4 linked regions of the Homo sapiens genome follow. Changing the gene in region 4 together with the main gene of any one other region gives a genetic interaction. Each region holds a gene or a part of one and is shown on either strand. Other genes may lie near its edges. The genes, in order: NR5A1, MAP2K5, LCK and LTB4R.

The links.
Region 1: changes in LTB4R (region 4) and NR5A1 together harm fitness less than expected from each alone (positive genetic interaction), as found in Homo sapiens cells (one large-scale study listed by BioGRID).
Region 2: changes in LTB4R (region 4) and MAP2K5 together harm fitness less than expected from each alone (positive genetic interaction), as found in Homo sapiens cells (one large-scale study listed by BioGRID).
Region 3: changes in LTB4R (region 4) and LCK together harm fitness more than expected from each alone (negative genetic interaction), as found in Homo sapiens cells (one large-scale study listed by BioGRID).

The regions. Positions count from the first base shown.
Region 1 is NC_000009.12:124,504,590-124,508,691, reverse strand, and holds the start of NR5A1 (steroidogenic factor 1), read left to right. Parts: upstream 1-1,292; 5' UTR 1,293-1,443; intron 1,444-4,102. UniProt on the Homo sapiens protein: Transcriptional activator. Essential for sexual differentiation and formation of the primary steroidogenic tissues. Binds to the Ad4 site found in the promoter region of steroidogenic P450 genes such as CYP11A, CYP11B and CYP21B.
Region 2 is NC_000015.10:67,580,685-67,584,247, forward strand, and holds part of MAP2K5 (dual specificity mitogen-activated protein kinase kinase 5), read left to right. Parts: intron 1-69; coding exon 70-139; intron 140-3,563. UniProt on the Homo sapiens protein: Acts as a scaffold for the formation of a ternary MAP3K2/MAP3K3-MAP3K5-MAPK7 signaling complex.
Region 3 is NC_000001.11:32,254,227-32,257,789, forward strand, and holds part of LCK (tyrosine-protein kinase Lck), read left to right. Parts: intron 1-3,563. UniProt on the Homo sapiens protein: Non-receptor tyrosine-protein kinase that plays an essential role in the selection and maturation of developing T-cells in the thymus and in the function of mature T-cells. Plays a key role in T-cell antigen receptor (TCR)-linked signal transduction pathways.
Region 4 is NC_000014.9:24,314,456-24,318,553, reverse strand, and holds the end of LTB4R (leukotriene B4 receptor 1), read right to left. Parts: exon of another isoform or gene 3,534-4,098; intron 2,918-3,533; 5' UTR 2,903-2,917; coding exon 1,844-2,902; 3' UTR 518-1,843; downstream 1-517. Other genes in the region: ADCY4 (adenylate cyclase type 4), read left to right, coding at 1-138. UniProt on the Homo sapiens protein: Receptor for extracellular ATP > UTP and ADP. The activity of this receptor is mediated by G proteins which activate a phosphatidylinositol-calcium second messenger system.

The sequences.
Region 1 (4,102 bases), on a different chromosome or scaffold from region 4:
TGGCTGGAAAACACATAGGTTTTAAATATAGTTGGCGTTTCTACTTTTTCAGTGGCCTTCCATGAAAAAATATATATAGGGAGAGTTGGCTTCACTTCACTTATCCAGAAAAGTCCCTCTTGTTCCAGATAAGTGAGGTGTTGGGTGTGATTTATTTATTTCCTCCAATGAAGGGATATGTGGGAGGAGGGGTGGTTCTCAACAGTGACTGCCCCATAGTCACCCTGTGCCCCTCCCTGCTCTCCCAAGATGAAAGGCACGGAGGTAAATCCTCTGAGGACAGAGACTTTTCTTCTCTTTCCTATGGGATCCCTGGTGCCTGGAACAGTGCCTGACCCCTAAGTGTGCGCTCAGTAAATGTGAGACAAACAGAGGAACACACAAAAGATCCAGTCACCGTGGGAGCGGCACAACACCCTGCAACCCGGGCCCTACAGGAACAGGATATTTCAGAGCCCATCTGGGCCCAGAGATTGGATGGGGACGTCCCAGGTTGTCTAGGGAGGCCTAGCCTTCTAGATAAGGGCCCCTTCCTGCTACCCTGTCCTATCCTGGACTAGCTTCATACTTGGTTCAACCTGGGGCCACTATAGCCACCACTTGGCCTCAGAGGCAGTCTCAGCCCAGCCTCAGTTTTTCCAGCCATCGACTGGGAACATCAGCAGCCCACAGCAGATGAGGACATTCAGAGGCCACCGTGGCATGCACGCACCAGGTGTCCAGGCCGCTCACCTGCTCCCCTTCCGGCCCCCCTCTTCTTCCACCTGATGGAAGAGGAAAAAGAGGTGGAAGCAGCAGGCCGCCTAGTCAAGTCGCCATGGCCTTGCCTCCGCACTGGCCTGTCCTGACTCTACTCCAATGTCCGGGCTGGGCCAGACCATGCCAGGCCAGGCCCCAGGGAGGTAGCCATTCACAAGGAGAGAGGAGCAGGCGGCAGGCCGGGTGGGGGAGCAGCCCATAAATCAAGCCCCACTCCCACCCGGTTTCTAACAAGCGGGGCTGCCTACCCGCCTCTGTGGGGTCCCTGCCTCTGGGCTCCCACAGCGGGCCTGGAACAGCCAGCTGGCCAAGGCCTCTGCAGTGCCTTGGCCTCCGCCCCCACCCTCAGCCCCCAGATAGATAGGGGTATTTTTTTTCTTTTAGGAGAAGAAGAAAAAATAGACGTAAATGAAGAGAAACACCAACAAAGAAGGCGAGAGGCCTGCAGAGTCACGTGGGGGCAGAGACCAATTGGGCCTCCGGTGGCCCCCCCACCAGGGCGGGGAGGAGGAGGAGGACGGACGGACAGGGCCAGCCTGCTGTCCGGCTGCCGCCCGCCGTGGTGTGAGGGGGTTTCTGCGCACCCACAGTCGCCACCGTCCCACCTGGGCTGCCGGAGCCTCCCCCTGGACCCCTGGTGCCCACTGCCACCCTCATCCGGTGTGAGAGCGCTGCTTCCGCTTCGTAAGTGAGGGCCTTGGCCCAGGCCTCTAATGGCCAGCCTCCTTCTGCAGTGCCTCCCTGCAGCCTGGGCCGGCCACTGCCTGCTCCACTTAGTGACCGGTGCCCCCTGCTCTGGGCAGGGAAGGTGCCAGGGGTCTCCCAGACTCACCCTCCCACCATGCTACCCCCTCTTCTTCCCTGGGCTGCCGATGGGAGGAGCCAGGCCTGTGACCACAAGCCCCATGGAGGTCCGCTGGTGTCCCGCTGTCTCTGGCCAGGCATCCACCAGGCTGTGTGGGTCTGAGCCTAGAGGTCTGTGAGTGTGTCTGGAGGGCTCTGGGCCTGTCTTGGGGCTCTGTCCCCCACCTGAGTTTCTGTGTTGTCTCTGTGGCTCTCTCTGAGTCTTGCTGTGTATCCGTGTGTCTGTCTCCGGCATCCATCTGTCAGCCTGGGTTCTGCGGCCGGGCCAGGTCTAGGCTTCCCTCCCTGGGTGGGTGGATGAGGGGCTGGAACTCCCCAGGCGGTGGGCTGGAACCTGGAACCTGTGGGGGTGGGTGCCTCGGAGCCTGGAGTGCAGAGGAGCCATGGGCTTCCAGCCGGTGAGAGTAGAAACCCTTGGGGAGAGGGGATTGGAGATAGAGGGAGAAGGGCCTGAGCCCAGCCCCCACCCAACCCCGGCGGCTGGGGCCTGTGTGTCCAGCTCCAGGTTTCCAGGAGACCTCGGGTGAGCTCTACCTTAGAACAGCCAACTGGGGCACCCCAGCCCATCATCCACCAACCCCCTTCCCTCCTGCAGTCACTGTCTGAGGGCTCCATTGTGGTGGGGAGCTGTTCAGAGGCGGCAGTGACCCCCACCTCCAGCTCGGGCAGATGCTCTTGTTTCTCAGGGGTTTGGGGGTGCGGGGGGTACGATTAACAGGGTCTCTGGCTCTTTCTTCCCTCCTCATCCAAGATTCTTGCATGGAAACCGCAGTACCCCATCTGTAAAGCCAACATGTTCCACTTTATGCTCGGAGAAAACTGAGGCTCTCGTTTCAGAGAGGAGAAGTGACTTGCCCGAGCTTGCACAGCTAGTCTGCGGGTTCTGCTCCTTCTGTGGGTGAGCCAGCTGAGTGCGGTCTGCGCGGGGGGTTCTCTGGCCACAACTTGCAGGCCCCAGGCCCAGCTCCAACCGAAGCCCGAGGCCTCCAGGCGGGCGGGAGCCCAGATGGAGCCTTTTGGTGGGTTGCGCCGCTGTCAATGCAAAATTGCGGTATTTTCCTGCTTGAAGATCGCAGCTTTTTGGCCTCATGGTCCCCAAACTCTCTCTGACCCCAGGTGCCAGCGGGGGCGGAGGCAGGATGCAAGCAGGCCCCTTCCTTTCGGGTCCGTTTCTCCAGCTGAAAAACAGTGGCCCCGCGGATGGTCCCTAGCCCAGAGCAACTGCTTGGCCCATAGGCCCGGGAACCCCTTTGTCCCCAAGACCGCCCAGCGCTTTCTTCCTCGCCCCACCCCCCCGTGAGAGCTCCGAGGGGAGCAGCGGGGCCCTGCCTCCGGGCTCCTCTCCCAGCTCCTGCGCCCGTAGAGGCTTCGGGTCCCCCCAGGCCTCGGACATTTGTAAAATGGGATTTCCACGAGTCCCATTTCCAGCCCAGCGACCTGAGGCTAGCGAGCAGAAGGGGTTCGCCCCAGATCTCCCCAGAGGGGCGCCACTGAGCGCTTCCGCCAGGCCACACGCGTGCTTTGCCCCTACTGCTTGGGTTCATCCTCACGACCCACCCTTAGCGAGGAAGAGCGGTCATCTACCCACTTCACAGATGCGGCAACTGAAGACCCGAGACGGGGAGAGAGCTGCTACAGGCTCGAGTGAGGAGATGTGGTGGGCCCCATGGGAGAATCTGGCTTCCACCCGTGAATCCGAGCCTCGGCCACGGTCGCCACTCGCCCTTACCCACTTCCACGCTGTAGTGCGACCAGCCACCCGCGTGGCATTCGCCACGACCCAGCTGGGTTCACAGACAGGAGCTGCCTCCTCCCACTGCAGGCGGGTGACCCAAGGCCCCCACTGCCCTATACCTGCCCAGATCGCGGGGCACTCGGGCTCCGCAGCTCTCTGGCCGCGCTCGGGGTCCGGGGAGCCGGGCTGCGGCTGGGGGGCCTGGAGGATGAGGGCGAAGACTCGAGCTGGACTGCGGAGAGGGTGCCGGCGCGGGCCGGGCTTGGGGGGAGGACACGACCGGGCCTCCGCCCCCGGATACCGCACGCGCCGATATAGAGGGGCCGGCCCCCGGCCCCGGCGCGGCGGGTTGGCGCAGGGCGGGGTGGCGGCTGAGGGGCCCGGGTCCCAGGTGCGCCTCGGAGCGGCCCCGGCGGCGGTGCGGGGGGGAACAGGGAGGCAGGATGGGGGGCGGGGAGGCGGGAGGGGGGAGCCGAGGCCCCCGCGCCGCCAGCCCCGCGCCCCCGCCTCCCCGTCCCCGGCCCGAGCGGCCGTCATCGCGGGCGGGCGGCGCTGCGCCCGGGTGCGGCTCCTCGCCGGCGGCGGCGGCGCGGCCGAGAGGTGCGGGCTCCGCGCGGGCGGGACGCGGGGCGCTGCTCGCAGGAGCGACCAGGTGGGCGCCGGGCCGACCGCAGCCGCCGTCGCGCCCCCTCTCGCGTCCCGGGCCCTGGCTCTTCGCGCTTCCCTCCTCCGGACTTCGCCTCT
Region 2 (3,563 bases), on a different chromosome or scaffold from region 4:
ACAACCCATAAGTGTCTGTTCCAGTATTCATACATTACTGAGTGATCTCTTTCTATAATCTCTTTGCAGTATTATTCCACAGTAATGGAACAGCAAGTAAATGGACAGTTAATAGAGCCTCTGCAGATATTTCCAAGAGGTAATGTTGAGCAAATTCTAATCAACAATGATTATTTCAGTAAACTGTTTCATCAACAGTTATGTTTCCAAAGGTTTAAATGCACATAACATGATGTTTAGCTCTTAATTCGAAAAACAAAAGAAGTATTCATTATCGTGGGGATTGCAGGCTATATTATAGTTATGGCAGATAAAATATCTAATTTACTAGAGTAAATTAAACTAACTAGATTGTTTTTTGTTTTTGAAGTACATACTTACATTAGCTTAAAGAACTCTTTTGGGGGTCCACATGGTTTCTAAAGCAAGGCAAATGAATGACTTTAATTCTGGATATTTATAAATTGTGGCTCATGATGGTGGCCAAAGCTGCTATTGAGGAGAAAGCTTTCAGTTAGCACAGAAGCGAAGATTTACTGAGGTGTTAGGAGAGAAATTTTGGTGGAATGTTTGGTATCTGGTTTTTTGAGGAGGTATTTTCTAAATAATTGAAATTCTTCATAAATGGAAATTTGATTATCTCCAAAAATATGAGCTGATGAGAGTAAGTTTCAGTGAATCACTTGGTCAGATAATTTTCTTTTTCCCTTTTAGGTTTGGCAGTACTATCCTTGTATCAGATATGATTGTTCAACCGTGTATAAATGTTCCCTCAAAATTTGAATAATGGTGAACAAGAACAGTTTAATTATATAAACCATTAAGTCTTTCACCCGTTATACATTGCCCCACTTGGAATCCATGTTTTCTAACTAATGGAACAGATAAGGAAATTCTCTAAGTAACCCTTCTAGAAATAACTTAATTGAAATAATTAAAAGTTAAACTTACCTTCGTTAACTGATACTGTACAAATAATCATGGTATGAGTTTTCCAATTAAACATTCTAGACTTTCATTACCTGTAACTCTCTGAAGTTTGAATGGCTCAATTAACCAGTAGGCTCCTATTTGCACTGATAAAGTCTCCAAAGGCAGCTGTCTTGGCCAACCCACAAGAAGATCTGGGTTCAAGAATAATACTGCTCTTCCAGCATATGTGTGGGCAGCAGAATCAGGAGTGCTTAGTATATTACTAGTAACTTATTGAAGTGCTAAGTAAGTACAGTTGGGCTATTTAAGGCCAGTGATAGTCCAAAACAAGGATTGTGATTAATCCACTTCTGTTGTACTTGAAGATTAAGCACCAAAACAGAAAAAAAGAAATGTTGCTATTTCTGTTTATTAGTCCAATGATTAGGATGTAGATGATTTCTTTTTTTTTTTTTTTTTTTTCGAGACAGAGTCTCGCTCTGCCACCAGGCTGGAGTGCAGTGGTGCAATCTCAGCTCACCGCAACCTCTGACTCCCTGGTTCAAGTGATTCTCCTGCCTCAGCCTCCTGAGTAGCTGGGATTACAGGCTCGTGTCACCACACCCAGCTAATTTTTGTATTTTTAGCAGAGACAGGGTTTTACCATGTTGGCCAGGATGGTCTTGATCTCCTGACCTCATGATCCACTCCCCTCGGCCTCCCAAAGTGCTGGGATTACAGGCGTGAGCCACCACGCCCAGCCAGGAGGCAGATTATTTCTTAATGTTTGCAGTGACTGGAGAATTTGGGCAAGTTTCAAAATTCTTTCTTCACAAGGAGTAGTATTTTACAAACTGAAAATTTCCATTAATTTCTCTATTGACATTATAGCTCTGCCATAGAAAACCCTAATTGCAGTATCCTGGAGAAATATACTTCCAGGCAGGGCACAGTGGTTCATGCCTGTAATCTCAGCACTTTGGGAAGCTGAGGCAGGTGGATTGCTTGAGCTCAAGAGTTTGAGACCAGCTTGGGCAACATGTCAAAACCCTGTCTCTACCAAAAAAATACAAAAATTAGCCGGGCGTGGTGCACACTCCTGTTGTCCCAGCTACTTGGTGGGCTGAGGTGGGAGGATGGCTTGAGCCCAAGAGGTTGAGGCTACAGTGAGCCATGTTTGTGCCACTGTACTCCAGCCTGAGTGACAGAGCAATACATTGTCTCAAAACACACACACACACACACACACACACACACACTTCCAATGTTGTGGGTCTTCATTTGTCTCTAAAAAATTTTTTTTAGTTATCTTCATCCAAATTCTTTCAAGTTTTGTTTGTTTTCTTTCCTTTTGTGAGCAGTCCTGTCATTCTCACTGTTCATCGCATTATGCTTCTTCCCATGATAATCACAACCATTTTTAGATGTCTGCTCTGTTAAGGCATTAATATTGCTTTACGCATCATCATCTGTAATCCTCCTGATAGTTCTGCCTATTAGGTATTACTGTTTCCAATTTATAGATGAGAATATTGAGATTCAGAGAGGTTAAGTAACTTCAGAGTCACACAGCTTATAAGTGCTTACTATGCCCTTTGAGTAAGAATTTCATTTAAATTATAATATGATTAAAATGGAAAGGCATATATATTAAAATATAATTAGAGTGTGCATGGGAGTAGTTTGGAGGGCTTGTTTTGGAGTGGAGAGGAGTATGTTATGGGGAGAGGATACTTAAAGGAGGAAATTATATGAGATGTCATTGTCATATGTAGTCTTAGCATAAAACCCACTAGGCTGCAATAAATTGTTAAACATAGTCTTTCTAAGCCAAATTTAAATATTTCAGAATATGAGACTGTCTTTTTATTTCTGTGTTTTTTTAATATGCTATGGTGTAATTGTTTCTAGTTTTTGGTAGTCTTTTGCTTTTTGCTACCTGTCTACATCGAATGTACATTTTATCATATGTAGATAAGTGAAATTATGCAAATTTACATAATCGACATGTAGACATACTGGGTATATTTCCTGTGTCTACCTAGTTGGTTAGAGGCCCTCAGATCTTAAATTTTATGGTTAGGCCCCATGTTAAAAAGAATCTTTAGACTGAACAAGTAGGAAGGATAGGAGAAAATGATTGTTTCCTTATTTATTTATTTATTTATTTATTTTGGAGACAGAGTCTCACTCTATCACCCAGGCTGGAGTGCAGTGTGTGCTCACTGCAGCCTTTATGTCCCCAGGCTGGAGCAGTTCTCTCGCCTCAGCTCCTGAGTAGCTGGGGCTACAGGCATGTGCCACCACGCTGGGCATTTTTTTTTAATTTTTTAATAGCGACAAGGTATCACAGTGTTGCCCAGGCTGGTGTCAAACTCCTGAGCTCAAGCAATCCTCCCACCACCACTTCTCCAAGTGCTGGGATGAAAGGCATGAGCCACCATGCCTGGCCATAATTCTGATGTAATAACATGTTCTCCTCATTCCAAGTAGCACAGTTGCCTTGGATAGTAACTCCCAGGTCATGGCTAAGTCCTCTACATTGTTAAAAGATATGTTAAATATTAATAAGTGTGAACATTGACTAGCTTTATAGTAATTCCTGACCCGATAACTTTAGGAAATATGAGGTTACTGGGTTTTTTGACTGC
Region 3 (3,563 bases), on a different chromosome or scaffold from region 4:
AAATAAACACGGCAGAGTGCAGTGGCTCACGCCTGTAATCCCAGCACTTTGGGAGGCCAAAGCAGGTGGATCACCTGAGGTCAGGAGTTCGAAACCAGCCTGGCCATCATGGTGAATCCCCATCTCCACTAAAAATACAAAAAATTAGCCAGGCATGGTGGTGCATGTCTGTAAACCTCCACCTCCCAGGTTCCAGTGATTCTCCTGCCTTAGCCTCCCCAGTAACTGGGATTACAGGCGTGTGCCACCATGTCTGGCTAAGTTTTGTGGGGTTTTTTTGGTTTGTTTGTTTTTTGTTTTTTTGAGACAGAGTTTTACTCTTGTTGCCCAGGATGGAGTGCAGTGGTGCGAGCTTGGCTCACTGCAACCTCCGTCTCCCTGGTTCAAGTGATTCTGCTGCCTCAGCCTCCCGAGTAGCTGGGATTACAGGCATGGACCACCACGCCCGGCTAATTTTGTGTTTTTAGTAGAGATGGGGTTTCTCCATGTTGGTCAGGCTGATCTTGAACTCCCGATCTCAGGTGATCCGCCTGCCTCAGCCTCCCAAAGTGCTGGGATTACAGGCATGAGCCACCTCGCCCGGCTGTTTTTGTTTCTAATTACAAAATTAGCACATTGCTGTTTTAAAAACACTCAAACAGGCCAGGCACAGTGGCTCGCACCTGTAATCCTAGCACTTTGGGGGGCCGTGATGGGAGGATCACATGGGCCCAGGAGTTTGAGACCTGCCTGGGCAACATAGGCAGACCCCATCTCTATTTAATTATTTAAAAAAAAAATAAAATTTAAAACTCAAACAGTAAGAGGCATATAAAGAAATACAAGAAATGCAGCCTCCTCCAATCCCACTTCTGGGATATGCCCATCGTGAAAAATTTGGTGTGTGTCCTTCCAGATTTTCCCATGTATGGCTGCTGAAAAACATGGAGGTTAAGTCTAGTCTCTGCAGGCTGGCAGACCGGGACTCACTTCACAACTCCACTGCTCATTTGTTTGTTATGAGGCCTCAGACAAATCATTTTACCTGGTTTGGGCCTCAGTCTTTGCATCTGTAAAATGGGGATAATAATAGCACTTCATAGGATTATTATGAGAATTACATGAAATAATGCAAATAAAGGCTTAGCACAGAGCTTATTTAAAAGAATCCCCTGTATACATATGTCAATGCAAATAGGCATATACTCTGCATTCTGTTCTGCAACTTGCTTGCCATGGTGTATGCGGGATGTCTTTCCGTGTCAATACATGTCAATACAAAATACCTCATCCTTTTAACTGTTTCACTAAACGTTAGCTTGGTAAATGGTTAACGGTGGTGATTTTGAAATGTTACTTCCTGGCAAGTGTTGCTGTCATGTGCGGCCATGTTGTCGGCAGTCACAGATATTATTGATCAGTGAGCTAACTACAAGCCTTATAGCCTCCTGTGAAAATGAAGTGACCCACCAGAGGGGCACCCACCTCTGTCACAGAGGGCAGGGCCAAATGCATGGGACGCTCTCTGTCTGCTTACTTCTGCATCCTCAGCTCTAGGTCAGAATCTGGCACATAGGAGGTACCCATTAAATTTATTTTTTTTTTTTTTTTTTTTGAGACAGTGTCTCAGTCTGTTGCCCCGGCTGGGGCACATGGTGTGATCATAGCTCACTGTAACTTCACACACCTGGGCTTGAGTGGTTCTCCCACCTCAGCTTCCTGAGTAGCCTAGGACTACAGATGTGTACCACCATGCCCAGCTAATTATAAAAAAATTCTTGGCCAGGCACAGTGGCTCATGCCTATAATCCCAATACTTTGGGAGGCTGAGGCAGGAAGATCTCTTGAGACTAGGCATTCAAGACTAGCCTGGGCAACATAGCAACACCCCGTCTCTATTAAAACATAATAATAACAATACAATTTATTTATTTATTTATTTAGTTATTTATAGATGGAGTCTTGCTCTGTCACCCAGGCTGGAGTGCAGTGGCACTATCTCAGCTCACTGCAACCTCTGTCTCCGGGTTCAAGCAATTCTCCTGCCTCAGCTTCCCAAGTAGCTGGGACTATAGGCACATGCCACCAAGCCCGGCTAACTTTTGTATTTTTAGTAGAAATGGGGTTTCTACTAAACTCCCAACACTTTGGGAGGGTGAGGTGGGTGCATCATCTGAGGTCAGGAGTTTGAAACCAGCCTGGCCAACATGGTGAAACCCTGTCTCTACTAAAAATACAACAAATTAGCCAGGCGTGGTGGCAGGCGCCTGTAATCCCAGTTACTTGGGAGGCTGAGACAGGAGAATTGCTTGAACTCGGGAAGTGGAGGTTGCAGTGAACCGAGATCGTGCCATTGCACTCCAGCCTGGGCAACAAGAGCAAAACTCTGTCTTAAAAAAAAAAAGTGTGTGGAGATAAGATCTCACTATTTTGCCCAAGCTGCACTCACACTATGTATGGTCTCAAGCAATCGTCCTACCTCACCCATTACATTTTTGTCAATAGGCCAGCTCCTTTAATCCACAAGCAGCAGCCTAAGCCCAAAGTTCTCTCTTGCAGTGTGGCATTTCCTAAAATATGACCTGTACACCACTCAGGTGTGTAAGTGATTTTAGGGGATAATGGATGACCATTTACGAATGTTAATTTATGTGTTTATTTTAGTGTGCGCTGTTGTTTCACTTCTATTTATGTCTCATGATTCTGGTTTTCCATTTATGGTAGTAAAGTTTCCATTTTAGGTACATATATCAAACGTGAAAAGGTAGCCCGTGGAAGTGCCAAAAATCATGAAGGAAAATGAAAATGATCAATCATTTTAGCCTGAAAGATGTTTAAGGCCAGTGTCTATGTAGCAAGCACTATGTTAAGCATTTTATTATATGAGATCATCTATATATCACGTATAATGCTCACCACAGCCAGCCTTAGATGCAAGTCTTATTTTTGTCATCATTTTGCTGATGAAGGAACTGAGGGAAGTGCAGAGGTTTAGTAAGCTGCCCAACAACCTTCTGCCAGTAAGTCTTGTTTTTTTTTTTTTTGTTTTTTTTGTTTTTTTGAGACAAGGTCTTGCTCTGTCGCCTAGGCTGGAGCGTAGTGGCCCAATCTTGGCTAACTGTAGCCTTGACCTCCCCAATCTCAGGTGATCCTCTCACCTCAGCCTCCCAAGTAGCTGGGACCACAAGCATGGGACACAAAGTCCGGCTAATTTTTGTATTTTTTTTGTACCGACGGGGTTTTGCCATGTTGCCCAGGCTGGTCTCAAACTCCTGGGCTCACGTATCTGTCTGCCCACCTTAGCCTCCCAAAGTGCTGGGATTATAGGTGTGAACCACCACGCCTGGTGCCCTTCTGCCAGCAAGTGATTGGGAGAACCTGGATTGAATTTGGGTTGCCATGGCATGGACATGGTGAACTGAGCTTCCAGAGCTGCCAGACTCCCAGAAACGTTTATAAAGCAGTGTGGATTGCCAAGCTGTAAGTAAGGCTCCATCCTAATAAAACTGTCCATGATACAAAAAGCACACCAAAGTACCCAAGGGAGCGGACTCAGTAAAAGGGATTATCAGGTATATTCACGT
Region 4 (4,098 bases):
GCATGGGCCCTACAGTCCCTGGGCTACACCTGCTACAGCCGGGGTGTCATCAAGGTGAAAGGCAAAGGGCAGCTCTGCACCTACTTCCTGAACACAGACTTGACACGAACTGGACCTCCTTCAGCTACCCTAGGCTGAGATTGCACTCGCCTTCTAAGAACCTCAATAAAGAGACTCTGGGGTGTCTGGAGCCCATTGATGTCTGAAGCTGCTGATATAGCTGGGGATCACCTTCTCATTGCCCTTCAGTGGGAATTCTTCTTCTTCCCAGGCCAATTTTAGTGCGAGTGTGTGTGTGAATGTGTGTGCACATGCCTGCACACATGCATGCATGTGAGACTAAGCATTTTGAAAGGGAGTGATTTTTTTCACAAGCTCAGGAAGAGAACTCCCTCAGCCTCTCTGCCAACTTGATTATAGTATTTTGTACACCTTGGAAGCATAAAGAATTTAGCCACATGACTCAAAACAAAAATTTGCCCTTTCCTGCCCCCTACTCAAAAATACCGGAAGAATCTCCAGGGAAATGTCATTTGAACTTTATTAATTCGACAAACACTAAATAAGTACCTATTATGTGCTCACCATACAGAATGGGCGAGAGGACTGGGAAATACTCCGTTAGGTCCCTCCCAGTTTCAGCTGCTGTTCTCAAATTGGTGCACCATACCTTCCAGTAAGGATCTGTAGACAGCTTGGGGATCTCCTCTTCTTAGGTCCATCCAACATCCCTTTGCTTCCTTCTGCATCCTTCTGCACAGATGCTGGTATATGGGTCTTGAGATATTGATGACTCATTCTCACTGGCTCATACTTTGGGGTCCATGGGAGTATGTCAAACCTTGACATACTAGATTTGTTGCGGATGTTGCATGTGGATATTTGGTTTCCCTCTCTTACTTGCTCTTTTGTTTTTTTATGAGAAAGATCCAAAAAGTACACTGCTGCCACTGTTGTTGCCATCTTCCTAAAACCTTGTCAGAACAGAGTTGGACCAAGGTTCTCTAAAACAACAGTCATCTCTAGGAAATAATGACTCATCCCTCTCACTTTTGGGAATCTTTGTTTCCTGGGGCCCTCAGCCCCACCCTGTGCCAGGGTGTGTTGTGGAGGTTAGCAGATGCTGATATGCAAAATTCTAAGGGATAAGATCTAATGACTTAGTCCTCAAGTCTGGCCTCTTTGTGAAATGGAGGGAAGGAAGGCATCCCCTAGAACATCTCCTATGGAGAGGACAAAGATTATTGGCAGGAAGTTGGAGTCATTCTAACAAGGAGACTTATCACAGGCTTCAAGGAAGATATTTCACAGCAGTGCTGTTTTCTCAGAAGGTCCCGGGTCACAGAACCTGGAGTGATAAGCCCACATGGGTGGTCTTCCTAGACAAGCTGCTTTAGGAGTCTGTAGACTGCGTTTTGCTAAGTATTATCTGCAGACTATGTACTCGGAATCATCTGGGATGGGGGAAGTCTATGTTTCTTTGTGTCCCTTCCAAAATTGTAAATCATGGGGAACTAAAGGACGTGACTCTCAACTACCGAGAGGGGCCCCACCAGGGCGCCCACGAGCACCCCGATACCCACAGCACATGTACCCCACTCACAAGGTTGACCAAATTTCAGACTTCAGTTTTAATGGTTAAAGCTGCCTGTGGGAGCCAGGCTGGAGCACGCTCTCACTCGGCCCTCACTTTGCTCCACCTCTCCCTCTTCTTCCACTCCACTCCCGCCTCCCACGCTCCCACGCCCTCCACGCCCTCCACGCCCCTGCTCCTCCTCCAGGTACTGAACTGGCTCAGAGCTAGCATTCTGCCAGGAGGAAAGTGCGCCTCCTTCCACCAGGCCTAGTTCAGTTCGTTTAACTTGAGAGGGCTGGAGGCAGTGAGGCTCTCGGAAGGGCCGGGCTCCAGAGCGGCGGGGCCGCTCCTAGCGGTCTGGCCCAGGCTGCCCCCGCGGCGCGTGCTGGACGCCTCGGAGCCCGTGCCCTCCAGCAGCTTGGCGACGAAGCCCACGCCCGCCGAGCGCAGCAGGCCGCCGCCGGCGCACGCGTACAGCACGGGGTTCACGCTGCTGCTCAGGAAGGCGAGTGCGATGAGCACGTTGCGGGCCAGGCTCAGCCGCTTCCCCACGAGCCCTAACCCGGCGGCCTGGCCGGCCAGCGCGCGGCCCGCCTCAGCCAGGTTCACCACGTGGTAGGGCAGCCAGAAGGCGGCGAAGGTCAGGATGATGAGCACCACCAGGCGGCCGGTGCGGCGGCTGCGGCGGAAGCGCCGGGCCTGTAGCCGACGCCCTATGTCCGAGTAGCTGGCCACCACAGCCAGGAAGGGCAGCAGGAAGCCCGTGACAGCCTCGAAGATTAGATGGAAGGCCCGGTGCCCTTCGCTGGGGTACCGCGGGAAGCACAGGCTCATGTTCGTTTTCCAGGGCACTACTGTGCGGTACGCGAGGACGGGTGTGGCCAGCAGAAAGGACAACACCCAGATGCCTGCCAGCACCCGCCGGGCCATCGCCTTGGTGCGTAGCTTCTGGGACACAAAGGGGCGGGCCACCGCCAGTGAGCGGTCTAGACTCATGGCCGTGATAAGCAGGACGCTGGCGTACATGCTGACTCCGCAGACATAGTGACACAGGCGGCAACCAGCCAGTCCAAAACTCCAGGTGCCTTGGGCCAGGAAGTGAAGGAAAAAGGGAGCAGTGAGCAATACGGCCAGGTCGGCCAGGGCCAGGTTCAGCACCATCAGGGCAGTGACAGAGCGCTTCTGCATCCTTTTCAGGATACTCCACACCACAAAGCTGTTGCCGGGAAGCCCCACAGCCAGCGCCACTGACAGCAGGATGATAGCCAGCAGAGAGATGAACTCTACACCTAGTGAGGGGGGTGCTGCAGAAGATGTAGTGTTCATGGCCGTCGGGAGGACCTGGAGAGTGAGGGCGGACACACGCATGAGAGTAGAGGACCAAGGGTTTCCTGACGCCATGGACACACCTAGGCTGAGAACTCTAGTCTATCTCCAGGGTCAGCAGCATCAGAGGTCCCCCTGAAATATACTGCCCCCATCGCTGCAGACTGACAACTTAAAGGGATCTGGTTGAGTACAAAGACTAGTTTCCTAACTGGGTCATGCGGCCCCTTCCTGTCCACAGACCCAATTGCAAAATATACAGTGACCACAGCAGCAGCAGCATTTCCAGACCTTTTCAGTCTCCTCCCCTTAGGAGACCCTAAAGCCCAGAACCAAACAGAGTTCCTACCAATGCTGCACCCCTTGAAAGGCCAGTCTTTTTGCCCCCTGCCAGGCCCTCAGCCCCTCAATCCCATTAACTTTCCCAATCACCTGCCTACTGTCCCCAGAGATGCCCAGGGTCAACCAGGAATAACAGGGAGGGGAGGAGTTTAGTGGACAAGTGACAAGGACAAAGCCTCCCAACTTTTTACGCTGGTCAGGCTTTCTTTGGAGATTCCTTTGCACCTTCTTTCATGGCTGCACACTGTCCCACCACCACCACAACCACGGCCGCTCCCAGGAAACTTACTTACAAGCTTTGGCAGGAACTGGTTGGAAGCTGATGCCAATCCCAGGGTCAGGGCAGGGTGGTGTAGCCTATCCCTGGATCTGTCCCACTGCCAAAGGCCTGGCCCCAGGTCTAGGTGCTGTTTGCTAAATCAGCCAGAGAGGAAGTACCACAGAGCAGAGGACAGGGAAGACGCATCTTCCTGAGGGTGGGGCTGAAACCCCTACCCACTCCCTTCACTAGGAGGGGGGATAGTCTGTTTTCCAGGGCAACCCAGAAGGCAGGAGGACTCCTTAGAGGTGGGGCCAGATGAGAAGAGACCAGGAAGGAGCAGTGAGAGAGGAAAGAGGGGTGTGGGGAGTGAGAAGGCTGGGTGTGGCCTCAAGATGCAGGTCTAGACTGGATAATTGAACAAAGTAGTGAATGGTATCATATAGGAGAAGGAGGTATGGTAGCCAGAGAAGGGAAATGGGCTCAGATTGGAGGCTACAATGCTGATATCTTTTTGTTTTGTTTTGCTTTGTTTTAAGATTAATAGGAAGTGTAGGTTGGAGCTGTGACTAGGTCCTGGGTCTGGGTTTGGGTT